Linked DNA regions of Homo sapiens: all the other regions are linked to region 1. Evidence: fine-mapped expression QTL. A gene starts in region 1. Each other region holds a variant in brackets. All regions are shown on one strand. Distances are between the middles of the regions.

Evidence for each region.
Region 2: its variant is fine-mapped to the expression of RCSD1 in lymphoblastoid cells (GEUVADIS, PIP 0.95).
Region 3: its variant is fine-mapped to the expression of RCSD1 in whole blood (INTERVAL, PIP 0.91).

The regions. Positions count from the first base shown.
Region 1 is chr1:167,626,115-167,635,730 of GRCh38, forward strand. RCSD1 (RCSD domain containing 1) reads left to right here and starts at 4,118. Exons shown (of 7, transcript NM_052862.4): 1 at 4,118-4,315. The coding sequence starts at 4,310. RefSeq lists enhancers at 1,947-2,006, 2,087-2,256, 2,267-2,316, 4,835-4,904, 8,792-9,315 and 1 more and silencers at 3,975-4,054, 4,075-4,294.
Region 2 is chr1:167,602,078-167,612,068 of GRCh38, forward strand. No RefSeq gene overlaps it. Among named protein-coding and RNA genes, the nearest start is that of RCSD1, 23 kb to the right of the region's middle. The variant C/T (reference allele first, on the strand shown) is at 4,339.
Region 3 is chr1:167,707,526-167,717,516 of GRCh38, forward strand. It overlaps RCSD1 (RCSD domain containing 1), which reads left to right. Exons shown (of 7, transcript NM_052862.4): 7 at 1-1,171. TRP-CGG1-1 (tRNA-Pro (anticodon CGG) 1-1) reads left to right here and starts at 7,200; the gene lies at 7,200-7,271. TRP-AGG2-1 (tRNA-Pro (anticodon AGG) 2-1) reads right to left here and starts at 8,034; the gene lies at 7,963-8,034. RefSeq lists enhancers at 5,718-6,556, 6,051-6,210 and silencers at 6,681-6,920, 7,221-7,320. The variant G/A (reference allele first, on the strand shown) is at 4,310.

The sequences.
Region 1 (9,616 bases):
GCTGCAGTCCCACTGCTGCTGTGCTGTCTTTCTCCTCAATTTCCTCATCTGCCTTTGGGAAACTTTCCATTGCAGGTTCTTAAAGACATAAAAACACTTCAGACTTTGTGCTTTCATTTCAATGTAATTCAAATTTATTCCTCAATGACAGTTACGGCAAAATGAATTGGGATTTGTGTGTGTGTGTGTGTGTGTTTCATTATATTTTGTTTTGCCAGATTCCCAGAATTTAGGAATGAATGGTATTATGTAAAATGTTATATATATTATGTTTATATTATTTTATATATTTATATTGTATATATTTATATATTATATTAATATAACTATATTATATAGATGATATTTCATGTAATACCATATGAGGTAATTTTTACCTATATATGCATTTACCTATACCATAGTAGGTAGTATTTGTAGTCGTAAAAGAATATTTGCTTCTTGCTCTTCATTTTTAAAATAGATGATCAGCAGTACAGTGTGTCCACTATAAACAGCTGATTGATTAGACCTCTTTGCAATTCTGCTTGAAAGCTAATTAAGTTACTACTTATTGTGGCCTTTCATGATCTTTTCTCCCACTGGGTCCTTATTTCCATGGGAGACCCATCTCTGAAAGACTCTGTCTCTGACTTAAAGGGAAAGATCCTAATTTGCTTCACTTGTTCATTCATTCACGCACATATTCGCCAAATTATTTTTATTTTACTTTATTTTTTTAGAGACAAGGTCTTGTTCTGTTGCCAAGGATAGAGTGCTCACTGCAGCCTTGAACTCCTGGGCTCAAACCATCCTCCACCTCCCAAAGCACTGGGATTACAGGTGTGAGCTACCACCTGGCCTCATTCACTAAATATTTATTGAGGGCCTTCTATATGCCTGGCTCCTCCCCATACCTCCCCATACGCCCCTCCCTTGGCTGAGCTGTATCTCTGGTGTTCTTGTTTTTTTATTTTTTGTTTTTTTTTTTTTTTTTAGATGGAGTCTCACTCTGTTGCCCAGGCTGGAGTGCAGCTGCACGATCTCGGCTCACTGCAACCTCTGCCTTGTGGGTTCAAGCAATTCACTTGCCTGAGCCTCCTAAGTAGCTGGGATTACAGGCACATGCCACCACGCCCAGCTAATTTTTGTATTTTTAGTAGAGACGGGGTTTTGCCATGTTGGCCAGGCTGGTCTCAAACTCCTGACCTCGTGATCCGCCTGCCTCGGCCTCCCAAAGTGCTGGGATTATAGGCGTGAGCTACTGCACCTGGCCTTTTTTTTTTTTTTTGTCGGAGTCTTGGCTCTGTCACCCAGGCTGGAGTGCAGTGGCAAGAATTTGGCTCACTGCAACCTCTGCCCCCCAGGTTCAAGCAATTCTTCTGCCTCAGCCTCCCGCGTAGCTGAGATTACAGGCACACGCCACCATGCCCAGCTAATTTTTGTATTTTTTTAGTAGAGATGGGGTTTCACTATGTTGGCCAGGCTGGTCCCTAACTCCTGACCTTGTGATCCACCTGCCTCACCTCCCAAAGTTCTGGGATTACAGGCATGAGCCCAGCCTGGTGTTTTTATTGTTAGTTACCTGATGACCTCTACTTATTGCGTGGCTGGTTCTGGCTATCAGGATATATGAAGGGGAAGGCCCAGGGTAGACTGAAGGAAGTGGTTCCGTGTTAGCCAGCCAGACCTCCAGAGAGAGAGGGGAACCAACTCCTCGGAAAGTCACTTTCCCTTCCCCTTGGGCTGTTGTTTCCTCCCAGCCCCCAGAGCAGCCAGTTACAATCCCAGATAACCCAGCAAACCTGGGTGTTTATCAGCAGAGTTACTGCTATTCTGGCTCCTGGAGATCTTCTGTAGGGACAGAAGAAGAAGATAAGGGGAGTACACACACCACACCTACTCATGGCTGCCTAAACACAGCTCGGGGCTACCTCTTGGTCCCTCCCTCCCCGTTTTCCACCCCCTCCCTCAGGAGAAGTCCCAGTCTGGGGCCCAAATAGCTCTGGAGCAGCATTAAACTCTGCACTGGGGACCCAGGAGCATGGTGGAGGCCAAGCTTGTTTGCTTTGTGGTCATCTGTTCTCAGCCAAGAGAGGCCTAAGCAGGGCGTGGGGAGCAGCTGCAAGTCACCTTGGGTGACTGATGTTATCTAGGCCTAACGGTTTCCTCTGGGTAAGCACTTCCGCCCTCCTGTTTGTGAAGCCAGAAACCTGTGCTGGGGCAGCCCCATTCTGAGCACAAAGGAGGACTAGGTAGAGGGAGAAAGGAAAAGGCCCTGTGGAGCAGAGTTAGAAGACCTGATAGTAGACTATGCAGTCATCACTACGTCCTGCACCTTTAAAAAGAAAGGAAAGAAGCACGAGCAAAAGTGTGCCTTGCAGGTTACCAGTAAATACCCTTCCTTACTGCCGACTCTGCTCTCGAGTCTTCACCTGAGCAGCCATGTGGCTGGACTGGGAGGGGCCTCACTATTAATTCCTGGGAGTGAGGGCTCTTTTCACTGGGTCCCCGAGTGCCTGTCTCTAAATAAAAGAAATATCAGGCTCTTATTCATCTGAAGCTTGTACATGGGGCTAAGCATGATAAAAACAGCCACTTTTTGCAGAGTGCCTACTACATTGTATAGGTGAGGAAAATGAGAATCAGAGCAGTTAAGTGACTTGTCTAAAAAATACAACTAGAAAGTAGCAGAGCTGGAATTCAGCCCTCAATCTGTCTGTTCCTAAAACCAGGCGTCTTCCTCTATGCTTAGCTAAGCTAAAGAACTAGAAGCCACTCTGGCATTAGGGCTGCCAGTGTTTTAGAAAGTTGGGCCTTAGAAAGTTCTAGGACAGGAAGGAGGCCATATTTCTAAGACTGGTACCCAAAGCAGCAATCTAAGTGCCTGAAAGTGCAAAGATGGTGCCGGGATAACCAGAATCAGGGTAGTCTTTGTAGCAGGAGCAGACTCTCAGCCTTTTTTCTCTACTGTTTCTCCACATGTCTCTTCACAGTGCTCACCATCACCTGTCCCATTGCCCACCTCTGATGGGGCTCCCCTCCCCTGGTTGAGCTGGGGTTGGGCGGGTGAGAATGCTGTGGGATAACCCAGAGGCGTCATATACCCAGCCAATACCCTGGCACTCACAGGTCTCTCAAGGCATTTTCCTGTTTCTCTCTGCCGAAGGGTCTGAAGGGGGCCGGGATCCGGGTAGCAGGGAGTGACCCTGGTGCAGATTCCAGTCCCCGAATCCCTCCCATGCGGTCTCTGCTGCCCAGCCGGGATGGCCCTAAAGGAAGGTTGCTATGCTGGGCCCTATGGGAATCAGATGTTGAGCATCTTGCCCTTTGCTATATTTAACAGGAATGGAGACGAGGCCCTTTAGCAAGCAGCTTGTGGGAGCCAAAATTCCCACAAAACCGAATGCATCAGTCAAAGCAAGGTTTGAAGAAAAGATTTACCACTTCAGGGAGCTTGGAAAACTTTGCGTGGATTCCTGATTTTCCTCCTCCTCCTCCTCCTTCTACTCGTATACAGAAGATAGATGGATAGATGGATAGATAGTGGTTTCCTGGAAGGTGGAGAGGAAAAGAGGTGAGAAGGGAAAGGTGGTCCCGTCGGCGCCACGCTGAGCTCTGAAGCCTCGGTCAGAAGGGCTCCTCTTTTGGTAGAACACAAACGCCTTCCACCAGGGAGGGTCCTCGAACTCCACCCAAGAACTGCAGGGAAACCAGGTATGACAGTAATGCAATTTTAAAAAGAGGGAGAGGAAGAAGGAAAGCAGGAAGGATGGACACAAAAGAAGGAAATCGAAAAGAGAGGAAACAAAAAGAATTAAAGGACCACTCTAATTCTTGAAGGGACAGGAAAAAGAAAGAAGGCGCATTAAGGGAGGGAGACGTTGAGAAGGACTGAGACCGTGGCAAAGCCCAGGGTCCTGAGAAACTTCGCGAGACAGAGGGGCCCGGTGGCTGCCCATCCCCATGTTTGGGCACATGGAGTCGTGGCTCCCGCTCTTGAGTCCTGCCCTGGGAGGGACAGTATCTGTTTAGATTTGCGTCTAAATTTAAACCCTGATCGTCGGCCTCCCTCCCCGCTCCCCACCCTCCCCTCCCCTCCCCTTCCTCCCTCCCTCCCTCCTCCTCCTTCCTCGTTCTCTCGCGCAGGGCCCCCGCGGCCGGGGCAGTCCCGCAGCCGAGCGCAGCCGGGCGCGCGCCACCGCCCACTCGCCCTGTGCCCGCCGCAGCCCGAAACTGGCCACGGCCGGGAGCGGAGGGGACAGCGGGGATCGTGAGCTCCGGCCCGGGCGAGCGGGTGCGTCTGCCGCAGAGTCGGCACCTGAAGGACATGGAGGTAAAGGACCCCGGAGGGAGACGCGGGGCTGAGCGGTGAGCGGTGTATCGGGCGCCCCTTCCCCGGGCGGCTGCCCCTGCCCTGAGCATGGAGCACGCGGCTCATCGCTGCTGCCAACTAGAAGGGCAAATGCCTGCTGTTCCGACGCCTCCTTGACCAACTCCGAAGGATCGTCCCTGGTCCCACCTAGGACACCCGGGTTGGGAGGCTGGGGTTGGTAAGGAAAGATCTCAGAGGGAGAGAAAAGGGCTTTCCTAGAGGCCCGGGTATTTTGGCTAGGAACTTAAATGCTAAAAAAAAAAAAAAAAAAAAAAAAAAAAAAAAGTTAGGTGCAGCCAAGGTTTGTAAATGGGTAAACGTGTCAGCAAAAACTGCAAGAAGGCAGAAGCCCTTCAATCTGAAGAGATGGGTATTGAAAGAGAAACAGAACTGGCAACACGAGGCCAGCACGTCTTCGTGGGTCTGTGGGCTTCCCTTTTCGCTTTCGGAGTGGCATTTTAGAGAGTCCAGTTGTCTTCTTGCTTCTGAAGTCCTTCCTGTGTCTGTCGCATCTTCTTCCATAACTTTCTGAAAGCTCCCCTTACTGGTCAGTCGAATGACATTATTTCTGATAAAACTTAAGACTCCCTTGGACACCCTTGCCTCTGAAGCTGTGTGTATGGAGGTATGCTGGCCACATCTGCAGGCTTTGCCAGAGGGAGGCCCCGCACTTCTCTGCCTGCTGAGAGGAGGTCCGGGGACTTTCCTTGTTCTGTTCCAACCTCAGCAGAGGAGTGGTTGGGTGTATTCCCCACATCCCTCTCTTCTGCACATCTTGAGGCTTCCCTGTGTTTCCTCCTTGAAAATGAGACCTGATATGTAGCCCTAAGTCAATCTTAGTAGGACCTGGGGCTTTTGAGAAGATGCAAATGTTATATAGTTTTAAAGGTGATTCCCACTCATATTCAAAAGGAAACATGTGTTGCTCACTAGACTGTGGTCAGTGCAATCAGGATTCACAGTTAACTCCGCTATCTCTTCCCCGCTCCAGGCTCTGTGCCTGGGCCCTGGTGGTCTTTTTATTTTTTTCTTTTGAGACAGGGTCTCATTCTGTTACCCAGGCTGGAGTGCAGTGGCACAATCTCAGCTCACTGCAACCTCTGCCTCCCAGGCTCAAAGGATCCTCCCACCTCAGCCTCCCAAGTGGCTGGGACTACCAGTGTGTACCACCATGCCTGGCTAGTTTTAAAATTTTTTGTAGAGACAAGTTCTCACTATATTACCCATGCTGGTCTTGAACTCCTGGGCTCAAGTGATCCTCTAAGCCTTGGCCTCCCAAAGTGCTGGATTTGCAGGCATGAGCCACACCACTCCTGGCCCTGGTTGTGTTTTCTAAGCTAGACTCTGTGCTTGCCGGCAAAGCTTCATGACTTCTCTAAAGGGGCAATAAGTTTGTCCTTTAGAGAAGTCAGGGAGCTATATTCAGGCATCCAGCCCAGCCAGTTGTCTTCAAGGAACAGGGAATCACCTTCAAGGAGACTTTATAGACTGCAAGAACCACTGGAGTCTAATATGGACCCTCCACAGAAACATTTGCAAGGCCAGGAAGCTCTGGCAGATTAGGGCTGGCGGTGAGGCACGCACACAGCGAAGCTCAGCAGGTGGTGTGCACACATCCACCCAAAGATCACACAAACACAAAACAACAGGGTTCTCTCTGAGCTGGCCACTGCTTCAGGGCAGAGGAGGGAAATGGCCCAGGCAACACCCAGCTTCTTGGGTTGGGTGAAGTCTCCTTAAGAAATTGTTTTAGAAGTGGCTTCCCTCTTCTGGAAGTGTACAAACTGCCTTAGGCCCCAGGCTGCAGATTCACTATGATGTATGGCCTGTCTAACCTCTTGAAGAAAAGGATTGGAGATAAGAGAAAAGCAACTCTTAGACTTCAAGCAGGTTGCTGCTGGAGGGCCAAATGCAAGTGTCAACTTTGTTCTAGGAAAACAAGGAGGGTCTCCTTCCACAGAGGCAGTTTCTCCCCCCTCAGATGAGGAAGGAATAGTGTATGGCAGAGGCCCTGAAACTATCAGCTGAGCAACTTCCTGTGTGGCTTGGGGGGTGGAGGGGATTGCAGTAAAAGAGAAGGCCCTCCCTTATTGAGATGTGTAGTAACTTATGCAGGATTCCACCAAGATACCAAAATCACTCCCGTGCTAGGGTTTGGGAGGGACGCAGGGAGGGAATAGCTCAGCCAGCCAGAAGCCTGACAAATCACCCTGCGTCTCACATCCAGTAGGTCACTAAGCCTAGTCCATCAATTTGCTGGTTGGACAGTGGCTGCTTTTGAAGTTTCTTTGTCCAAATGCCTGGAAAACAAAAAACAACAAAAATGAAACAAACAAACAAAAAAACAACATGCAACTGCTAGTGAAGAAAGTAAAGAGGAAATCTAGGGGCCAGGGAAGTGACCATTCTTAGCCAGGAAGTAAACTTTTCATGGTGAAGCATGATATGCAGGAGTTGGATTTGGGGGTTTCTGAAAATCTCAGAGTAAAACCCTCTTTTGAGAGGTGAAACTCAGTTTTGGGACATGAAAGGGCTACTGTATCTGGAAAGAAATTAAGTTATATTACTTCTCAGTACTAGGAATCCAAACCAGACCAAAGAGGGTTACTCAATATTCATTCTCTAAAGCTCACGTATTATTGGAAGTCTTTGAGAGATCTTTTTTTAAAGTCACTGTTACCATTATCAACAACATCAATCTTCATCCCTCATAAAGCCCTGTGGAATAAACAAAGTATAGATGCCATCTGATCCCTGCCTTTTAAAAGCTCACAACCCAATAAAGGGACTATATCCTGTCACATATATAATCTTCAAATGCATAAATGCCAGTTGAATACTGCTGCAGATCATGAGTTCTGCAGGAGTTCAGACTAGATTAGGTTCAGAAGAAGCCTTGGAAGAAAGATGTGGGTAAGGTGGAGAAGGTATAAGGGATGGGCACAGGGAGAACATGCCAGCTTTGTCCAGCTGGCTGGGAAGGAAGGTAGGAAAGCAGTAACAGAAAAAAATGAAAGTAATAAGATAAATCCAAGGTCACTGAGTATAGTAGATGCCCAGCTAAGTGGGTGAGTGGGAGCTGAAATCCAAGTCACTTGGAGGAAAAGGTTACTTTTTGTTCATACAAAATCTCCTTGCCTAGTTGAGCCTCAAACGGGTGGCTTTTTCTAATTCATGCAGAGGCCATCTGCAACTCTTGAAGGCCAGAGTTGTATGGCCCTGGATTCTGCTCCATGGACAGTAGGAAACTCTGAGAGGTGTTGAGGCAGCTGGCAGCAGTGATGTAGCCGGGATGATACAGCAAAAATGCCACTTCATGGAGTGAGCAAGGGAACCAGGTGAGAAAGCATCTTTTCCAGTACAGGTATATTCTGACTTCAGGATACAATAAGAATGGAGAAGATGGAAAAGAGTAAAGACCATGCGCTGGAAGGGAAGTCAGAAATCACCAAGCTGCCCAGAAGAGTGAAGTTCTCTATGGTGCCAGGGAAAATGGCAGTACCAACTTTTACAGCTCCATACAAAGCCTTTTGCAGGCAGATTTTCTCATTGGTCTTTGAGTCTCCAGAATGAGCACGGTGCCTGGCATATAGTCATATAATTTCTCAATAAAAGTTTGCTTGATAAATGATTAGCATAAATAGGGAACTCCTTCCCCTCTCGGTCTGTAGCTCAAACGTCTCCACCTCTGGAAGGCTTCTGTGAAGCCCCCAGACTCTACAGCACTCTCAGAGCACTTTGTTCAAGCCACTATTAGAACACTAGGCAGAACTGGAACTGTCAGCCTCCCTAACTGTCACCCCGGAAGGCTCCTTGAGGGCAGGGGCCATGTCTTATATATTTAGAGCCTAATGGGCACCAAGAAAGGCTTGTTGCATGAGCAAATATTGAAGAGGGAAGGAAGATCAGGGTTTTTTTTTTTAACAAGCAGTGTTTAGATATGTTGGTTTTGATTGTTCTAAGCAGAATGTCCACCACTCCCTAAGAAATACAAACCTGTTATGATACAAATGTGATTCTCCTCTAGAAGAGATAATAGGTAATGCTATTGTGGATAGGAACCCAGAGGACAGAGGTGTGTAAAGAAGGAGCTGGAGGCGTATGATGTCACATTTAAGTTAATACTGTTAGTCACTTAAATATAAATTGTGTGCACTGCCAATAGCCTGAGGGCACTTGAAAAAAAGTATAATTTTCGCTGACTAAATCCTTTGTTTGTTCAACTAAATTGTAGGCACATCATGGCACTGAAAAAAAGTCATAAATTTCTAACTTAGGTGGAGACAATAAATGAATCCTTTTCTCTGGGGTAACTGCAAATCATTCCCAGATATTATTTGTCATTCATGGACCTACTCAGTATTTATTGGGCCCTTATTACATACCAGATCTTGTATTTTAAATGTTACTTAAAAATTATGGAGCTCTCATGTCTTTACATTCTCACAGACTGTCAGTATTACTATGATGAGAGTGTGTGTGTGTGTGTGTGTGTGTGTGTGTACATATTGGTGTATATAATGTGTTTGTTTTGTGACCTACTTTTTCATCCATATCTTTTTACTTCAGTAAACATTTTCTACCACATTTTTTAAAATTATGGGACTAGGAGATAGAAGAGAAACATGTAACGAATCCAAATCTTAAAAAGATTATTTTGATATTTCACCGTGAAACACTAGGAGAAACACCCACAGCCTCGCTGTTTTTTGACCCACCCACCCTCTCACTGAGCCATATGTTGGCTGCTGGTTGGAGCTGATGGGCCGTAATTAGGAATTGCACAGCCTCTGAAGCTAGAGTTTGGCTCGGTGGACTTGTGGCATGCCCAAATACCCCACATTCCTCTCTGGCTCCCGCGTGTTCTGTGGGACCCTCACCCTCACACTGGCCCCCACTCAGCAGACATCTTCCATTTGTTGGACTGCGACGACAGGGGGAATTTGGGGAGTGAGACTCTAAGGGCCCAGCCCAGGCCCTATCACAGGAGGGGGTGAATGTGCATTCCTGGAAAGGAGTCGGGTTTCAGAGCCTGATCCGCAGCGTGGCTCCTCACAGCACTGCGAGCCAGAGCTTGGCGCGCGCGGTTCCGTGGGAAATCTGAACACTGGCGGCTCAGCAGCCCGGTAATCTTATCAGGGCCGCAAGAGAAAGCATTTTGGTTCCAGAGAAATCTGAAGGCAGCTCCGCTTTTCTCCAGTAATAATATTTAAGTCTGTGGAGCCAGCCTGACCAACCCTATTCAACTCATTAGAATCTAAA
Region 2 (9,991 bases), 24 kb before region 1:
AAGATGGGAAATTGGACCATGCCAGGAAACCCAGGATGGCTGGCTGCCATACACAGGCCTCATGGAAAATTCTCTCCTCTGGGGGATGTCTGCCGGAAGTGCCATCTGCTTTTGCCACAGATTCATGGCTGTGAGTGTGGCTCAGGCAATAACCACAGTAGACCCTTGGTTAACTCCTGCTGTGGTTCCGCCAGGAAGCCTGGCATGAACAGTTGTGTCCAGGAAATCTTTTCCCTGATTTCACTAGCTTGTTTTATCTGCCTGACAACCTTACTCCCAGGAAGGCTTTGCAAGGCACTTTCACCTTCAGCTCTTGGAATGAATAAATACAGCTATGATTTTTTAAAAAATATCAGTCCAACAATTTCGGTATGTCCAATAAATATCATAATGACCTGTTTCACGTATCAGGAACTGTGCTGTGCACTGTCAGAGATAAAATGGTGAAAAATGCCATTCTCTTTAATCCTTTTGAGGCCCTGCTGGCATGAAATCGTGTTAGTGCTCAAGGGAAGGTACAATGGCTGAACACATAGTTTCCACCTTTTCACACTCAACTACAGTACAGATTAATCACGGTGTCATAGGAGGGAGCCAGACTTGGCATCAGATCCTGGATTCAAATCTTGCCACCTTCACTTGATGACTGTCTGGTACTGAACAAGGTACTCTTTCAACCTCTTACTCCTCATCTACCAAGAAGGAGGTCATAATTCCTCCTGGCAGTGAGGTTGGGTGAGGAATAAATGCTGGCACATTGTTTATGAGCCTAAGGCATAATAGATGCTGAGAAAAGGTTTATTTCCTTCTTTCCTTAAGGAGCTTAGAGGCTAATAGATAACAACTGGTCCTGCTGTAACTAACACACACTGCTGACTGTCATACAATCTCAACTAGGGGTGTGAAAGCATGCCGAGGTGGCCTTTTGAGGTTTGTTGCATATGCTTGGGGAAAAACGCTCAGATTAGCATTGCCGGGGGCCGTTTCCTGGGCTCCTTCCTGCAGGGCCTGTTTCGGGGCCCTCCACCCAAATCCACTCCGGGAGGAGTAAGTTTCGGGGCCTTTATTACCCACTTGTGATTAGGGATCAGAAGTGGCCAGTCGGGGTGGGTTGGCAGTGACTTGCACCCAAGGGAAGGATGGGAGCCCACAAGAGTGGCAGGGCTCTGGGGAGAGAGGCAGGCTAACCAGTAGAAGTGAATAGGATGTGCTAAAGTATTCCCTTGAGAGTGGAAATACCATACAGAAGACTTGGATATGTGGTTTTCACCCTAAACCAAGCTGAGGAACCAGCACCAAATGCTTAACAAACACACAAACAAAAACAAAAACCCCCCTCTGGGTGGCCCAATGCTGTAGCACTTCACTTTTCATGGGACCTTGCAGCTTACATGCAGCATTCAAAGACATGAGTTTATTTGGGCCTTCCAATATCCGAGCTTGGTAGGTAGGCTAATTTCATCACTTCATTGTACAGAGGAAAAATCTGAGATTCAGAGAAGTTACACAACTTGCCAAGATCACATCTAAGTAGCAGAGTTGTGGCTCTAAGCCACATAATCCAGACTTTTTTTTTTTTTTTTTTTTTTTTGAGATGAAGTCTCGCTCTGTCGCCCAGGCTTTAGTGCAGTGGTACAATCTCAGCTCACTGCAAGCTCCGCCTCCCGGGTTCAAGCAATTCTCCCATCTCAGCCTCCCAAGTAGCTGGGATTACAGGCACCTGCCATCATGCCCGGCTAATTTTTGTAGTTTTAGTAGAGACAAGGTTTCACCATGTTGGCCAGGCTGGTCTTGAACTCCTGACCTCAGGTGATCCGCCTGCCTTGGCCTCCCAAAGTGCTGGGATTACAGGTATGAGCCACCACGCCTGGCCCAGACTTCTTAAAGAAAACATAAATGGCCTATCAATTCATGTAAGAGTGTTCCAAAATTATTATAGTAGTGGCTCCTCTATGTTCTCCCCAATTTTTTTCTCTTTTCTATAGCAACAGAAGTTTTTTTACTGTGTACATGGAAACTCAGATAAAGACTCTATTTCCCAACTTCCCTTGCAGCTACAATTGTTCATGTCATTGTTTGGGACAACATGAGATATAAGTAGAGGTGATATGTGCAATCCTCAAGGCCAGACTCTTAAAAAGAAGTTGCATGTTCTCCTCCATCTTGATGGTAGGGATGCAAGATGTGATGATAGGAGCTGAGCAAGACATTTTGTGGTGTACCAGCTCTGAACCACTCACCTGGAATTTTATGTGAGAGAGATAAACTTAAGTTTAAGCCATTATATTTTGGGTTTATTTGTTACAGAAGCCTAACATTTACTCTAACTAACATGGGTATATGGATCTGATAATAGTCCTTAGGAAAGAAGACTGTGGAACAATCATGAAAAAAGAATAGGAGTTAAAGCCTGCAGGACATGTTACCAGTATGTTCTGCCCTTGCAGAGTCTCCTGAATTCTGTTCCCTGTGTTGGGCCTCATCCTTAGGCACACAGAGGGTGTCCCCTCAAATTCTTATTTCATCAAAATTGAGCCAACAATTGCCCTTTCTCTCAAATTGATTTCAGGTGGCATGACTCAAAGAGCACCAGACTTAAGGTCAGAAGATCTGAAGTCTAATTCCGGCTCGGTTTTTTCTGCCGTTCACAGTTATTTAATCTCTCTGAGCTTAGCTTTCCTCATCTATAAACTGAAGATGATGGTATCTGCCTCCAGGATTATTGTGACAATTGGCTTAGCTCAATGCTTGGCACAAAACAGACACTTCATACTCTCCCTCCTTCCCAGCCCCTCTGCCTTGCCGCATGCAGAACAGCCATGTGTCACATGAGTACAGTAAAGACCCCCATCGTCTCTTGTCTCACCGGCCCACCAAGGAAAAACACACTGGGAAATGTATCCAAGGACTTATCGGCCCTAAGGCCACAGGGCTTAGGCTTTGGTGAGCAGAGAGTGGAGGCCTAGAGTAATGTTGGCAGAATCCAAGAGTCTTTTTAAAAGGAGGGGCGGATCAGTGAAACCCGGAGCAAAAGAGCCTTGCAGCATTTGGGAAACACAACAGTGGGCTCCTTTATGTGGATGAAGTGCTGAGATCATGATCAGAGCCTCTGGGCTCTTGGCATGACCTTTCGGGTCAGAGGTACCTGACAAGACTGGCTGGTTGGTTCAAGTTCAGGGTGTCACAGTTCTGGTGGCTCCAGTCTCCACTGAGAAACCTGGGAAAATCTTTCTGCTGGACAGCCCAGGGGCTGACATCAACCTGAACTGCTACCAAGTATCAGGAGAAGCTTTCTTAACAAGTCAGGAACAATGAGACATTGTGCAGGCAGGTAGATCACAGTCTGTGTCCAAATCCCACAAGAAGAATTCTTAAGTATCTGCTTTCAGCCCCTGGAGACAGGAGTTTTTCATCTGGGGTCCTAAACTCCTCAACCACAACCTCTGGCCACGTTCTTGGCCCTCACCGGTCCCCATGTATCTCCTCTCTGGTAGTGGGACCCCAAATACATATATGGCTCCACTACCAGGGGGCCTGCAGGATTCCTGGAGGCTGAACTCCAATTCCCACTTTTCCATCCTTATCAGAAGCCTGACTGTCCTGTCCCTCTCATCCTAATCTAATCCAGTCAAGTTCAGGGTTTGCCAGCACACCAGGGCCTTCTCCTCTCCAACCAGACAGTGATTGAGGCTCCGGGATGGTAGAGTATGAGTCAGATCAGACCAGCGCCAGCACAGCTCTCCTTCCTCTATTGGTATTTCCCAGAGTGTACGTGCAAGTTTTAGATAACATAGGAATAAAAATTTATTGTAGCCCTGTGTTTATTGTAATAGGTATAAAAAATCAGTAGCTCATTGGAGTGGTGATTTCATGGATATCATTACTTAGTGTAATGCAAAATTTAAAAAGTAAATTAATTTAATATAGATCTCAAACTTACTGAAAAAAGTCATGGTATGGATGGCCCATGACACCAAAAAAAAAATGGTGCTGGGAAAATGCTCTTCACTATGCTGATTCTCTGGTCAAAAATGAGAAATATGATTTTTCAATTGACCCAAATACTCCTTCCAGCTGATAAATACAGTCTCTTTTGAGGAAGATTATTTACCTGTGAAGTCACATTAAGATAGCAATAGATTAAACAGATCAGATTTGCATTTTAGAGAGGTGATTCTGAAATAGAGTTGCCAGATAAAATACAGAATACCCAATTCAATTTGAACTTCAGATTGATTATTGCATGGTGATATGGTTTGAATCTGTCCCCACTCAAATCTCATGTTGAATTGTAATCCCCAGTGTTGAAAGTGGGGCCTGGCCGGGCGCGGTGGCTCA[C/T]GCCTGTAATCCCAGCACTTTGGAAGGCTGAGGCAAGGTCAGGAGATCGAGACCATCCTGGCCAACACGGTGAAACCCTGTCTCTACTAAAGATACAAAAAAAAAAAAAAAAAAAAATTAGCCAGGCATGGTGGCAGGTGCCTGTAGTCCCAGCTACTTGGGAGGCTGAGGCAGGAGAATGGTGTGAACCCAGGAGGTGGAGCTTGCAGTGAGCCGAGATCGACACTGCACTCCAGCCTGGGTGACAGAGCAAGACTCCGTCTCAAAAAAAAAAAAAGAAAGAAAGAAAGTGGGGCCTGATAGGAGGTGATTGGATCATGGGGTCAGGGTTTTCATGAATGGTTTAGCGCCATCCACTTGGTGCTGTCCTCATGCTAGTGATTGAGTTCTCACAAGATCTTGTTGCTTACATGTGTTTGGCACCAGCCACTGCCCTTGGTCCTGTTCCTGCCATGTAAGATGTCTGCTCTGGCTTTGCCTTTTGCCATGAGTAAAAGCTCCCTGAGGCGTCCCCAGAAGCAGATGCTGTTATGCTTCCTGGACAGCCTGTGGAACTGTGAGCAAATTAAACCTCTTTTCCTTATAAATGACCCAGTCTCAGGTATTTATTTACAGCAATACCAGAATGAACTAATACAGAAAATTGGTACTGAGAAGTAGGGCATTGCTATAAGAATACCTGAAAATGGAAGTGACTTTGGAATTGGGTAGCAGGCAGAGGTTGGAGGAGTATGGAGGGCTCAGAAGATTGGAAGATGGGGGAAAATTTGGAACTTCCTAGAGACTGCTTGAATTGTGACCAAAACGCTGATGGTGATATGAACAATGAAGGCCAGGCTGAGGAGGTCTCAGATGGAGATGGGGAACTTACTGGGAACTGGAGCAAAGGTCACTTTTGTCATGCATTAGCAAAGAACTCATAGGCATTATGCCCCTGCCCTAAGTATCTGTGGAACTTTGAACTTGAGAATGATGATTTTAGGGTACCTGGTGAAAGAAATTTCTAAGCAGTAAAGCATTCAAGATGTGACCTGGCTGCTTCTAGTAACCTATGCTCATATGATGAGCAAAGAAATGATCTGAAACTGTAACTTATATTTAAAAGGGAAGCAGAGCATAAAAGCTTGGAAAATTTGAAGGCTGGCCATGTGGGAGAAAAGAAAAGCCCATTTTCAGGGGAGCAACTCAAGCCAACTACAGAAATTTGCATAACTAAAAGGAAAGCAAGTGCTGATAGCCAAGATAATGGGGAAAAGGCTGAACCTTTGTGGCACTCCTCTCATCAGAGGCCTGGAGGCCTAGGAGGGAAGAGTAGTTTCATGGGCCAGGCCTAGGGCCCCCCTGCCCTTTGCAGCCTGGGGACACTCCTCCCTGCATCCTAAGCCACTCTGGCTCCAGTTGTGGCCCAAAGAGGCCCAGGTACAACTCAGGACACTGCTTCAGAGGGTACAAACCATGAACCTTGGCAGCTTACACATTGTGTTAAGCCGGCTAATGTGCAGAGTGCAAGAGTTGAAGCTTGGGAGCCTCCACCTAAATTTCAGAGAATGAAAAGCCTGGACGTCCAAGCAGAAGTGTGCTACAGAAGTGTGGGGCCCTCATGAAGAACCTTTACTAGGGAAGTCCAAAGAGGAAATGTGGGGTTGGAACTTCCATACAGAGTCCCCCCTGGAGCACTGCCTAAAGGAGCTATGAGAAGGGGGTTACCATCTTCCAGATCCCAAAATTGTAGATCCACCAACAGCTTGCACCCTGCACCTGGAAAAGCTGCAGACACTCAATGCCAGCTCTTGAGGGGGCTGAATCCTGGAAAGCCACTGGGTGGAGCTGCTCAAGGCTTTGGGAGCCTACCCCTCATACTAGTGTGCCCTGGATGTGAGACATGGAAGCAAAGGAGATTGTTTTGGAGCTGTAAGATTTAGACTGTCCTGTTGGGTTTCAGACTTGCATGGGGCCTGTAGTCCCTTCCTTTTGGCTGATTTCTCCCTTTTGGAAAGGGGGTTTTTACCCAATCCCTATGCCTCCATTGTATCTTGGGAGTAACTAACTTGATTTTGATTTTACAGGCTCTGGACTTTTGAGTTAATGCCAAAATGAGTTAAGATTTGGGGGATTATTGGGATGTCACGATTGTACTTTTGCAACATGAGAAGGACATGAAATTTGGAGGGGCCAAGGGTGGAATGATATGGTTTGGATCCCCACCCAAATCTTATGTTAAATTGTAATTCCCAGTGTTGGAGGTGGGGCCTGATGGGAGGTGATTGGATCATGAGGGCAGAGTTCTCACGAATGATTTAGCACTATCCCCTCAGTGCTATTGTCATGAGAGTGATGGAGTTCTCACAAAATCTGGTTGTTTAAAAGTCCATGGCACCTCCTCCTGTCTGTCAGTCCTGTTCCTGCCATGTAAGACACCTGCTCCTGTTTTGCTTTCCACCATAAGTAAAAGCTCCCCAAGGACTCCCCAGAAGCAGATGTCATTATGCTTCCTATACAGCCTGCAGAACTGTGAGCCAATTAAACCTCTTTTCCTTATAAATTACTCAGTCTCAGTTATTTCTTTATAGCAATGTGAGAACAGACTAATACACATGGGAGATATTTATACTAAAAATTACTTATCAATAGTTTGATGTTCAAATTTAACCGGATGGCTTGTATTTTTATTTGATAAACCTGACAGCCTTACTCTGAAAGTTTAAGTTAATCTCGGCTCCTCCTACTTACTCCCACATCCTAATATGTACTTAATCCCTGGAAAATCAAACTTGTAGTGTCTTTCAACCCTCTTTTTTCCTCTCCAGCTTAGGTCTTCAACTCTCCTGACTTGTTTTCCTGTCTGCAAAATTGCCTCTGATTCCTTCTGCTGTCGGAATCATCTTCCTAAAATGTAAATCTGACCCCTGCAAAACAGCTCTTAAGATGTTGCCCTTTCTCCTACTGACAAAGTCCAAATTCCTTTGCATGTCCAATTCCAGCCCCTGTTCCTCTCTGTCATCCCCGCCACAATGGACTTTGCTTTTCCCTCTGTACAGTGCACCCCTTTGTGTATCCTCCAGTTTGCTCCTGATAGCTTCACAGCCTTGAAAAATCTGACTTGGGTCTTCGTTATTAACCCCAGTGCTCAGTCCTCAGTGACACCTCCTCAGCACCTTAGCTCTCACTGCTGTCGCATCTCTGCCCCAGGCTAAGAGCACTGGCTACATCTAAGACTCTATCTCAGGTTTGTAGTGGAGTACTTGAGGTGAGGTGCCAGAGTGCGGTATTGACCATAGCAGGAGGGCCTGAGGTCCTTTGAGGCACCAGGAGGTAAGAGGAAAAGAAAAGGAACTAGTACAAAGATGAAAAGAAAAAACTGGAAAATGTTGGTTCCTCCTACTTCTTTTCTATTTAAGTCTCTGTTGATTGTGCGACTGTGTGCACATGATCTGATTTAATCCTCACGATATCCCTGCAATTTCATCACCCTGAATTTTTATAGGAAGAACTGATGACAAGAGAAGTTGGCATGATTTGCCCCCAAACACATTCAAGAAATAGCTATATTTAGAACCCAAGTCTTTTAGTAGGAAGACCAGCCTAGTACCATTTACTGAACTCCACCACCCTACCCCACCTCATCCTACCCCATATCCCCTTCTGCCTCAGACCTTGTACCCCAGGAAGAGGTCCTGGGAAACAAACCATTTCTTCTTTGCAGGCTGCATGCTCATTATTCTGTACATGACAACTTCCTTTGGCTTAATGTGTTGAACTGGTGATTATTAGGATTTTCTCATGAATGTTTTCAGAAAAAAAAACAAAATATAAAAAAAGACTGGATTCTTTCATTGCTACTGGGGCAAAGAGCTGACTAAACAGGGCTGATGCATTTTGCAAAAGGGAAAAGGCAGGATAGAAGTCTGGAATAGAACTGGAACCCTTTCCCTGACCCCTGGATTATAGAACATTCCAGACAACATTTTCCTAGCATAAGACTTTAGCTTTCTGAGTCAGGAACTCAATTTTCTTTAGACCCTAAAAATATTGTCTTAAATTTTTCTACCATTAGATTTCTTTTGGAAATTCAAAACATTTCCAGGTTTTTTTTCTTTTCCTTTTTTATTGTTTATTCATTATGATTACTATTTTTGAGTTATAATACAAATAGCATAGAGTGCACAAGGGCACTGATCTTAAATGTCCTGCTTAATGAGTTCTTGCATTTGTATACACCAGCACCTGGACCAAGATGTAAAACATTTCCATCACCTCAGAAGGGTCCCTCATGCACCTTCCCAGTCAATATCCCAGCTCAGGGGTAGCTATTATTCTAACATCTATCACCCTGAATTAGTTGTGCCTATTCTTGAGCGTCATAGCACATACTCTTCTGTGTCTGTCTTCTGCTCAGCATTATGTTTTTGAAATTCACCTCTGTCACGTGTGTCAGTATTTTGTTTCTTTTTATTGCCGAGTGTGGTAATATTTTATTGCATTAATATTCCACAATTTGTTGATCTGTTCTTGGACATTTGGATTGTTCGTAGTTTTGTACTATCATGGATAAAACTGATTTGTACCAATATGATAGGCTTGTATGTGTCTTTTGATAGGTATATCTACCTATTTCTCTTGGGAGCATGCCTAAGTTTGAAATTCCTGGTTCATGGAGCAGAGTCACAAATTTTTCAGGAAATGAATAAACTAAACTTTTCCAACAGCCATATGAAGAATGCTGCCCTTAAGCAAACCTTTAAAGTAGATAAAGATGTATTTACTGATCTCAAAGTTTTCAGTGACCTTTCTCTCTCCATCACCAAGAGCCTATCCTGGGTATCCGATCACCCTGAGTCTACTCACTGTTTTTGTTCTTGTTGTTGTTATTATTTTTGTTGTTATTTTGGAAATTTATGAGGGTATACAAGTCCAGAGAGAATAGTGCTATGAATTCCCACATGCGTGCACCCAGTTTCAACAACTATCAATGCATTCCCAATTCTGCCTCATCTATCTCTTTAACGATTTTTCACCCCTGGAAGATTTTAAAGAAAATCTCACACCTCATGTAACTTTAGCCATGGTACTTCAGTATGTATCTCTGGCAGATAAAATCTTTTATTTTTAACACAATCACTATATCACATTCACACCTAGGAAAAGTAACATGGATTTCTTGACATCATCTAATACCATCTGTGTTCAAATTTTCCCAATTGTCTCAAAATTATTGGTGTGTTTGAATCAGGACCCAATGAAGGTACACACATTGCATTTTGCTGATACTTCTCTTAAGTCTCTTTAAATATATAACAATTCTTTCTCCCTCTTTCTTTTTTTAAAATGTTGTTTATTTGTTAAAGAAACCAGTTCATTTGATCTATAGAAATTTCCCACATTCTAGTTTTTGCTGATTAAATCCTCATGGGATGTACATGGGCCATCTGCCATGTTTCCTGTAAACTGAAAGTTAGAGCTGGAGGCTTGATTAGTCTCTGGTTTCATTTTATATTTTTTTACTTTTGCAAATATCCCATCATCATAGGTGGCACTTACTGCATCATATCAGGATGGGCATAATGTCTTCTTGCCTCATTTTGAAAGATGCTGCCCACCTTTCACCTGCCCTCCTCCCTTTCACTCCCCCAGGGCTTTGCTTGTTTTCTGCTCT
Region 3 (9,991 bases), 82 kb after region 1:
GATGTCAGGAATCTCTCATGGTATTGGTCTCTGCTTTCCCTCGTATTGGCCATATTCTTTTTTTTTTCTTTTTTAAAAACTTATTTAATTAGTTTTCCTTAATAGTTGCAGCCAAGGCTGTCTCTTTTTTCTCTTCTTTTCTCTTCTTTTTTTTTGAATGAGACAGAGTCTCGCGCTGTCACTCAGGCTGGAGTGCAGTGGCACAATCACAGTTCACTGCAACCTCTGCCTCCTGCATTCAAGCGATTCTCGTGCCTCAGCCTCCCAAGTACTGCAGTTACTTTTGCACCAACCTAATAGCTCGGATTACAAGTATGCACCACCATGCCCAGCTAATTTTTGTATTTTTTAGTAGAGACCAGGTTTCACTATGTTGGCCAGGCTGGTCTCAAACTCCTGGCCTCTAGTGATCTGCCTGCCTCGGTCTCCCAAAGTGGGATTACAGGCATGAACCACCACGTCCAGCCAGTCATTTTCTTAAGTAGGTTCTTCCCAGCCTGCAAACCCAGTGAAAGGGCTTATTCTTTCACCATTACTGTGGGGAAAAAGTCCTGTAGAGGCTTTCCATAGGCCCTGTGTGACTCACGTGTCTATACCTGAATCAACTGTTACAACCAAGCAGATGCAGAGACTGCGTGCCCTCTCCTGGAGCTAGGAGCTAGGTGAGTCAATCCTGCACTTTCTCTACAAGGCTTGCAAAGGTGAGCAAGAAGATTCCCCAAAGTGAAATCAGGGTGCTGTTACCAAAAGAAGCTATGCTGGCAGGCAAAAAACAACAGCTGTTTCCCATAGGGCAAAACCTGAAACACCCAATTACTATCCCATTGTTTGCTTCAAAATTAAATTTTGTTTGACCCCAACTAGTTCTAGTCAAGTTTTTGCTCGATGGACCACGTGAAAAAAGGATAAACAATGTCTCTATATAATGCATGATCAGGTGGTTTATGAAGATGTCAAGAGCACTGAACAAAATCCAAATGCTCACATAAAATGGGATTAGGTTTCATAAGCCACCCAAGAAAATCAGTCTCATTATTTTATGTAATAATGTATTACTGTGCCCAGAGCTAACCTGTAGCTCTAGGGGAGTACAATGTGTTTGTATTATTCTTCATTGTACACAGTGCCTCAGACATAGTAGGTATTCAATAAATATTTGTTAAATCATGAATGACTGAATTGATTTCAGAGCTGAGATGGGATTATTTTCAACAGTCATCCCTGCTTAACACCTCTTTTATCTGACAGCAGACACCTGAAATGTCATCATTGGCTTCCTTCAATATGCAAATACTTCTGAGAGAGATCATTATTTGGAGCCTCCTTTGTCATTTACACCTTGGTGTGAGAAGTTTCTTGAGACCCTTCCCAGAGGGGGTTACAAAAGAGGAGCAAAGTGCACAAAATTCTAGGGTCAGGAGACACACTTTTCTGCCTTCCCAGTTTTGTTGGGGTAACCCAGGCTCCCCATGAGCCCTGTGCTGGATGTCCTGATCACAGTGGCTATGGATGCTGACAAGAGACCATTATTCCAGTTTTGCCCGCAAATCCCAGGAGAGCTGTGGGAATTCCAGCAAAGTCCCACTGTGGTCAAATGGGGCAGGAAACTGGTTCTTTGAGACTCCTCAGAGGAGGAAGAGATGATGAATGTATTACATGCCTCAGAGGGTAAAGGAAGCCAACAGTAAAACCACCCACATCCAAAACAGGAACTAAGAGATGTCTTACACATCCCCCTAATCCTGAAAAGCTGTGGGGCTTCTCCATGGGAGCTGAACACCCTCCGCCTGGAGCAGCCAGGAAGACACTATGAGGGAAGCAGGATGCCGAAGGAAGAGGTCAGAAAAGGCTAGGATTCTGGGCAGGCGCGGTGGCTCATGCCTGTAATCCTAGCACTTTGGGAGGCCAAAGCAGGTGGATAGCTTGAGGCTAGGAGTTCAAGACCAGCCAAGATGGTGAAGTCCCGTCTCTATTACAAATACAAAAATTAGCTGAGTCTGTTGGTGTGCCTGTAATCCCAGCTACTGGGGAGGCTGAGGCAGGAGAATCGCTTGAACCCGGGAGGTGGAGGCAGCAGTGAGCTGAGATCACGCCACTGTACTCCAGCCTGGGTGACAGAGTGAGACTCGGTCTCAATAAAAAAAAAAAAAAAAAAAAGGCTAGGATTCCCGCCCCCAAGTACTCCTGCAAGTAATATGACTCTAGTCCTTCATGATGTAGTTTTACATAGAAATTTAAGAAAGTGGCCAGGTGCAGTGGCTCACACCTGTAATCCCAGCACTTTGGGAGGCCAAGGTGGGTGGATCACCTGAGGTCAGGAGTTCGAGACCAGCCTGGCCAACACGGTGAAACCCCGTCTCTACTAAAAATACAAAAATTAGCTGAGCAGGGTGCCGCACACCTGTAATCCCAGCTACTCCGGGGGCTGAGGCAGGAGAATCGCTTGAACCTAGGAGGCGGAGGTTGCAGTGAGCCGAGATTGTGCCATTGCACTCCAGCCTGGGCGACAGAGTGAGACTGTGTCTCTAAAAAAAAAAAAAAAGAAAAGAAAGAAATTAGAGAAAGTTACTCTAACTTGGGTAAACCCCTAAGTCAGTTACCACACTTACCAGGTGCTTCTGTTTTAAAGAATGAGTGGACTGAATTGCACTTTAACCAGCATGCAGAAACAAAATTCTAGAATAATTATATGATTGGTACTCAAAGGATGGATATTGCCAAGACACAGATACTCATTCCCCCCCAAGAAAATAATAGCCTCTTCAAACAATAGGACCTCCAATACTAGTCACTGCTGTTTGACTATCTAAGGAAGCCACACATGCTAGACGGTGCCAGGCACATCCCCATCACAGTTGCACCTGGCCTCTCAGGAGTGATACAAACAGGCTTATTGACCACCTCTGGAAGCAGAAGGGATGGAGAAGCACAAAAGGGCCTGTTTTACATTGCTTCTAATTCTGTGTCTCCATTCTACCAAGAACAAAGAAATGCAGTTTCAAGACCCCTGTTTTCTTTGTGGCTTAAAAACGTTAATTATCCTAATTTTTTTCTCATTGTAAAAGCAATGCATCTTTATTTTAGAAAATTGGTGGAGGGGAAGAAAAAATTTTAAGAAGCAAACAAAAAAGTATTTTTAAGTCCACTATCTAGGGATAACTAATGTTACTATTTTATGGATATTCTTCTTTTTTTTTAGTGCATTATATACGTTTTGTTTTAATTCTTGGTTGGTGCAAAATTGGGATTTTACTATATCTAATTTTCTCTTTCTTTTTTGTAACATACTCTCATGAGCATGTCTTCATAAAGAATCACAAGTTTGATCATGAAAATGATACACTTTTGTGTTAACCAGAAACATCTGACCAGAACTAGGTCTGTATAAAACAGAGGGTAATAAGATGAACAGGTAATAAGACTCCTTGGTGAAAGTGAAGGTGTCCCAGCGGAGAGCAGTTCTTTCACAATCTACATCTGAGATTCATATTACCCCTCTGACCTCATGTACTCTCAGAACTTAAAAACAAGCAAAACCTTTTGAATGAAAAATGAAGAGGCTGAGGCAATTCCAAGAATTCATTAATAGTGATTCAATGAAGGGACTGCAAAATTCAGAGGGACACATGATCTAAACCTCATAAAAAGGATCACTGAGGGAAACCAAATAGAAATATGTTTAGTAAAATGTAGCTGAAGCTTTTGCTGGATATTGGACTAGAATCTGGAAAAAGACACAAATTTTCAGTCAGATCCAAGTTTCTGTTTAAATTGGAGGAAGGCTTGCTGTGCGTGACACAAGCCTACCAAGACAACTGCCATGGCCTTCTAGTCCATTAGTACATAACCCCACAAGCAGCAAACAAGGCTCAGCATATGAGCATGAGGCCAGTCTTGTGTGCCAAGTTAGCGAGAAGGTTCCTTGGAGTGGTGAACCCATGTAATTAATTGTATTCTTATTCCTAAGGACTGATCTTGCTAGACAGAGCCAAGTCTGCACCACCTAAGCCTAAATTGGGTAAGAATTCAGTAGCCAGCAAATCTTAGTTATTAAATAGTCACTGAATCCCCATTACAAGTGATTTAAATGCCCATTCACAGTTTCAATAATGTCATCCCAGAGTTATTCTAATCATCTCCTAATGGATTTACTAGTTTTCTAATTTCTTTTACTCCCTTTTATGCATCTGACCCCAAGTCAAAATTGTTATCATCAACAATACTTATTATCAGCATTCTCAAAAGCTTTGATGCCATCAAAACCCTTAAATGAAATTAAAAGATCAAATCATGGGCTTTAAAGTTATCT[G/A]AGAGCCACTGTTCCTCTTCTTCCACGTTTCCATCTTACTTGTTAACCAGCCAAGCCAAGCTCCTTAGCACAGAATTGCATCAAGAGTTATAAAAGTGGCCAAGGATCAGTGTTTGTCTCTGTGACCAGGCCAACTCTGGGAGTGTGTCCTAAGGAAATAATCCAAAGTACATGGAAAGGGGCAGGGTGCAATGGCTCACGCCTGTAATCCCAGCACTTTGGAGGCCGAAGTGGACAGATCACTTGAGCCCAGGAGTTGGGAGACCAGCCTGGGCAACATAGTGAAACTCCATCTCTACAAAAAAATACAAAAATATTAGCCAGGTGTGGGTGAACTAGCTGGGTGTAGGTGGCACATGCCTGTCCCAGCTACCTGGGAGGCTGAGGTAGGAGGATCACTTGAGCCCAGGAGGTTGAGGCTGCAGTGAGCCATGATGGCACCACTGCACTCCAGCCTGAGTGACAGAGTGAGACCCTGTCTCAAAAAAAAAAAAAAAAAAAAGTATATACACAAAATTTCAACAAAATGTTTGACACCACTTACTTATACAGTGGAAGAATAATTAAGAAAAGGATGTGCCATTATCTTGATGGGATACTATGAAGCCATTACAAACTACTTAACGGAGTGGAAAAGCAGACTTGGGAACTTATTTTTATTTTTTATCCCTCTCCCCAGGCTTGGGAAATTAAAACAACAACGAACAAAAACAAACAAAAAACCCTTGAGAGTGTATACTCAGCAAAGATAGAAGTGTCCACCTCTATCATGTTCCACACACATGGTGAGTGGCAGGAATATGTCAAAGCTCCCAGGAGTGGGATACAGCTCAGGCAAGGCAGAGAGAGCCCCAGCGAAGGCACGCATACTCTCAAAGGGAAGGAGGGCGACGCTTAGCTGCTCAGGACTTGCCCTAATGAAAACTCTCTCCCCAACCTTCCCCACCCTTGACCCATCCTCAAACTACCAAACAGTGTGTTAAAAGCAATATCTAGCCGGGCGCGGTGGCTCAACCCAACACTTTGGGAGGCCGAGAAAGGCGGATCACCTGAGATCGGGAGTTCGAGACCAGCCTGACCAACATGGAGAAACCCGTCTCTACTAAAAATACAAAATTAGCCAGGCGTGGTGGTGCATGCCTGTAATCCCAGCTACTCGGGAGGCTGAGGCAGAAGAATCACTTCAACCTGGGAGGCAGAGGTTGCGGTGAGCCGAGATCGCGCCATTGCACTCCAGCCTGGGCAACAAGAGCGACACTTCGTCTCAAAATAAAAAAGAAAAGAAAAGAAATTAAACAATATCCAGTTCTCACACCTTAGGTAAGTAGGAGGAAGAAAAGTGGTCTCAGACAAGGACAGGGTGTCAATAGTTTTACGCACTTCCAAACAAATAGAAGGCGTAGACAGGGCTGCCCACCTTAGACCTGGCCCCTGCACCAGCCAGCGACAGGGCTCTCTACATCGCCAGAGTGGGCTAAAGAAAGGTTTTTCAGTGCTCGCTGTTTGTTCTGAGGTGTCTTCACTGCATTTCCCGTTACACTCCCCACCGGCATGAACCCTGGTCCTGACCTCCTATCGCTAAGTGTCGTCCCAAAAGCTCACTGACATTAAAAGGAAGAGAGGAAGAGAGAGAGAAAAGAGCAGAGAAGCGGGTGCACGTGGGAAGCTCTCGGTTAGCAGGTGACAGGGCAAAAGCACCACCAGGACCTGGAAGAACGTCTGACCAGGCTACAGAGCAATGGATTTCTCTTACGCTGAACTGAAAGTAGCCTAAGAATGCAAGAGTGTTTTAGAAATAAGGGACGTCTGCAACTTGGCCACAGACTGCAAGGAGCCGGAGTGCAGAGTGGCGGGCTGGGGTCGTGAAGTGGGGGGAAGCGGTGAGAGCAGTCCGGAAAGCAGGCAAGACGAGCTAGACCCCAGGCCGGGAAACCACACCGGCGGGAGACCCCGCACTCGGACTCCCGCTCCTCTGAGCAGAAGAGCAGTAGGGCAGGCCCACATTTTCTGCTGGACGGGAGGGAGAAGACCCGGCCCACTGCCACTGCCCTCTCTTCTCCAAGCTACCGAGGTACCAATCTTCTCCCCAACTCTCCAGTCCCTTTCACACGCCCCAGCCCCCAGTTGTCCCACCCTCCAGGACCTCGGGAGTTCCTAGACCAGCGCCACCGCCAGCTCCTAGCCCAGTGGATTTATGTGAGCGACTTAACATCTCTGAGCCTCAGTTTCCTCATCTGCAAATGGAGATACAATGGCACCTAGGGGATTATTACGAATATCAGGTGAGTTCAATACAAGCAAAGGGCTTAAAAGAGTGCACTATCCCCAAATGAAGGTTCGGGGAGTTAACTTAATATTCACTCCTATGGGATTTCGTCTCCCACCACCCCTTTCTTAGCCAGGATTCGGGTATTCCCTTCCCTCGCTCGGACTCCCCGTCTTCATTCACCGACCCACTCGCGGAGCGAGCAGGCCCAGCTCTGCGTGCACTGACGGGCTGGGCGCGGGCGGGGCGCCGCCGGGACTTGGCACCGGGCTGCGTCCTGAGGCGCCCTGCCCCGCCCCGCACTTTCCTCAGCCCGGGCTCCCGGGCGCCCGCCAACACTGCGAGTGGAACAGCCGGGGCGAGCCCGTAAGCCGGAAGGCGGCTTCCGGGAGCGCGTGCGAACGTGGAGGCCACGCCGGCGATGGGGGGTTGGAACGGCCGGACCAGGCAAAAGCCGGTCCCTCCCTGCTCCTCCACGCTGTGGGGCAGTAAGCGCTCCGGACCCGAGGCTTAGGGAATCAGAGGACACGCAGTATAAGGGTCGCAGGTCGTGGTTGCTCGGAACACGAGGTGAGAGGCGGAACAAGGCTGAAGGGAAGCTCTGGGAGTGCCCTTGCCGAGAGCGGCTCGTTGGTCTAGGGGTATGATTCTCGCTTCGGGTGCGAGAGGTCCCGGGTTCAAATCCCGGACGAGCCCAGGCTTTTACCCACCCCACACCCGAAATTTAAAAACAGATTTTTTCCCCCTAATTCCCCACATATTCCATTCAGAAACTTAAATGAAAACATACTGGTCCCATGAGCTCGAATGTTGATCCCCTTTGTTTTTTGAAGCGAGGGACCATGTGAGCTCAATTAATACAACATATGGTTACTGTACGCCCAAAGGCAACGCATTCAAATTGCTTTGTACCATGTAAAACACACACTCTTGAAAAACAGACGCCTAGTGCGGAATCCTGTGCACGCCTTTAACTCCTCCAAACGAGCAGGGGGCGTCATGGATTAGCATGTCCCGGGGTTCGGGAATCAGCATTTCCGAGGAAAGGGGCGCTCAGGAGATATCCCCACCCCCGATGAGGGGCACTGTCGTGGATGAGTTTAAACCACGCCATAGGCAGCCAAGAACTGAGCTCCCGATGGCCCTGTACACGCGCTGCACCCAGGAATAGACAGCTAGGGACAATGTTTTCATAGTACAATACTACATTACTAGCAAACTTTTTACATTTTCAAAATGAGGCCTTTTAATGGTATTTCAATGTAGAGTGTGCTCTAAGTTTCCAAAAATCTCAATTTTGTGTTTTACTCTGACCAACCTGTATTTATTACGTTTAGTAATCTATCCCCAAAAAAACTCACCTTTAAGTGATTCTTACTCCAAAACAGGGCTCGTCCGGGATTTGAACCCGGGACCTCTCGCACCCTAAGCGAGAATCATACCCCTAGACCAACGAGCCGACACAAACTCCACCTTACTGTCATCAGAAAGGAACACATAGCTATTTAGTCCTGCGCCCTCAAGTGGTTGCTCGCATGTTAGGATTCGATCTTTGGGTTGTGTTTGCTTTCTATAGATACCGCGTTTTCAATTTTCTTTCTTTTCTGTTTTGCTCTTTGAAAATCAGTAACACAGAAGACAGCAAAATTGTCACTATCAGTATAATATCGACCTCTTATTTCGAAAATTGTAATTGTATTTCTATTCATGGCTAATAAATGGCTATTAGTGTGGGACAATGTCACTGTGGCAGATTCCAGACTCTCTCCGTTACTGAGTGAGTTCTGGATGTTTCATTCGTTCTTTTTCGCACTTTTCTATAATGTTAAAATCTCGGTTTCTTGCCGATATTTTTTATTGTAATATTCAAAGCCCTACCTATCTAGCCTTGTGAATTCCCATCTCTGTTTTTACTCGAAGTGTTCTCTTCAGCTGGAAAACCTGTTTGCTTTTGGACAAATCCCAAACTCTAACCTTCCCAGAAAAAGATCCTTTAACATATCAAAACCAATAGTATGTGGTAAATAACTGGGTTTCAGTCTTATCTCCTCCAACTGTAACTTCTTAGAGCGCAAGACACCTACACCAACACGAAATTCTACTGTAGAATTGGCAACCAATTGTGTGATTGCTGTTCGATTGTCCCAATATCTTTAATTAGATATAGTAAGCATGGCTTCTTAACTATATTTTAAATTCTTTTTCCTTTCTTTCTTTTTTTTTTTTTTTTTTTGAGACGTTGTCTCGCTTCGCTCTTTCGCCAGGCTGGAGAGAAGTGGTGTGATCTCGGCTCACTGCAACCTCCGCCCCCTCCGCCCTCCAGGTTCAAGCGATTCTCCGCCTCCCGAGTAGCTGGGATTACAGGCACCTGCCACCATGCCCAGCTAATTTTTGTATTTTTAGTAGAGGCGGGTTTCACCATGTTGGCCAGGCTGGTCTCCAACTCCTGACCTCAGTTGATCCACCCTCCTCGGCCTCCCAAAGTACAAGCGTGAGCCACTGCGCCCGGCCTAATTTCTTTTTTTTTTTTTTTTTTTTTTTTTTTTTTTTTTGAGACAGAGTCTAGCTCTGTCACCCAGGCTGGAGTGCAGTGGCGCGATCTCGGCTCACTGCAAGCTCCGCCTCCTGGGTTCATGCCATTCTCCTGCCTCAGCCACCCCAGTAGCTGGGACTACAGGCGCCCGCCACCACGCCTGGCTAATTTTTTTTGTATTTTAATAGAGTCGGGGTTTCACCGTGTTAGCTAAGATGGTCTCGATCTCCTGACCTCGTGATCCACCTGCCTCGGCCTGCCAAAGTGCTGGGATTACCACCGTGCCTGGCCCTAAATTCTTAAATACTTAGCATTGAGGCTTATCATAAGGAAGCTGGTGCTCAATGAATGATTCTGAATGATTACAATTTGTCTCAAATTCCTTAACAATACGAATTTTAGGTGTTTTTTGTTTGATACAGGGTCTCACTCTGTCGCCCGGGCTGGAGTGCAGTGGCATGATCATGGCTCACTGCATTTTAGTACTTTTGTTGCCGGAAAAAGGGGTCTTCACCGAACCTGGAGAGAGGGTTCTTGGATCTCGTGCAGGAAAGAATTCAGGGTGAAAGAAGCAAGTTTATTGGAAACTACTCTGTTACAGAGCAGGATGTTCTCAGAAAGTAGGAGGAGAAACACCCCGTTCTTAAGTTTTTCTTATATAGTGATCTTACCTATGTAAAAGCTAGGCTAAGCTGTGCCTACATACGGGTGAGCAGACAACATGACAAATTTTGTTACTCTGTTGATTTAAAGAAGACAATTATTGACATTTTAGTGTGTGAATACGTAAAAGCATAACTGTGATTATCTTAAAGGCATATATTGTTGTAGATATTAGGACATTTGGACTTCTTGCTGTTGTAGGAGTCAGTCCTAGTTATCT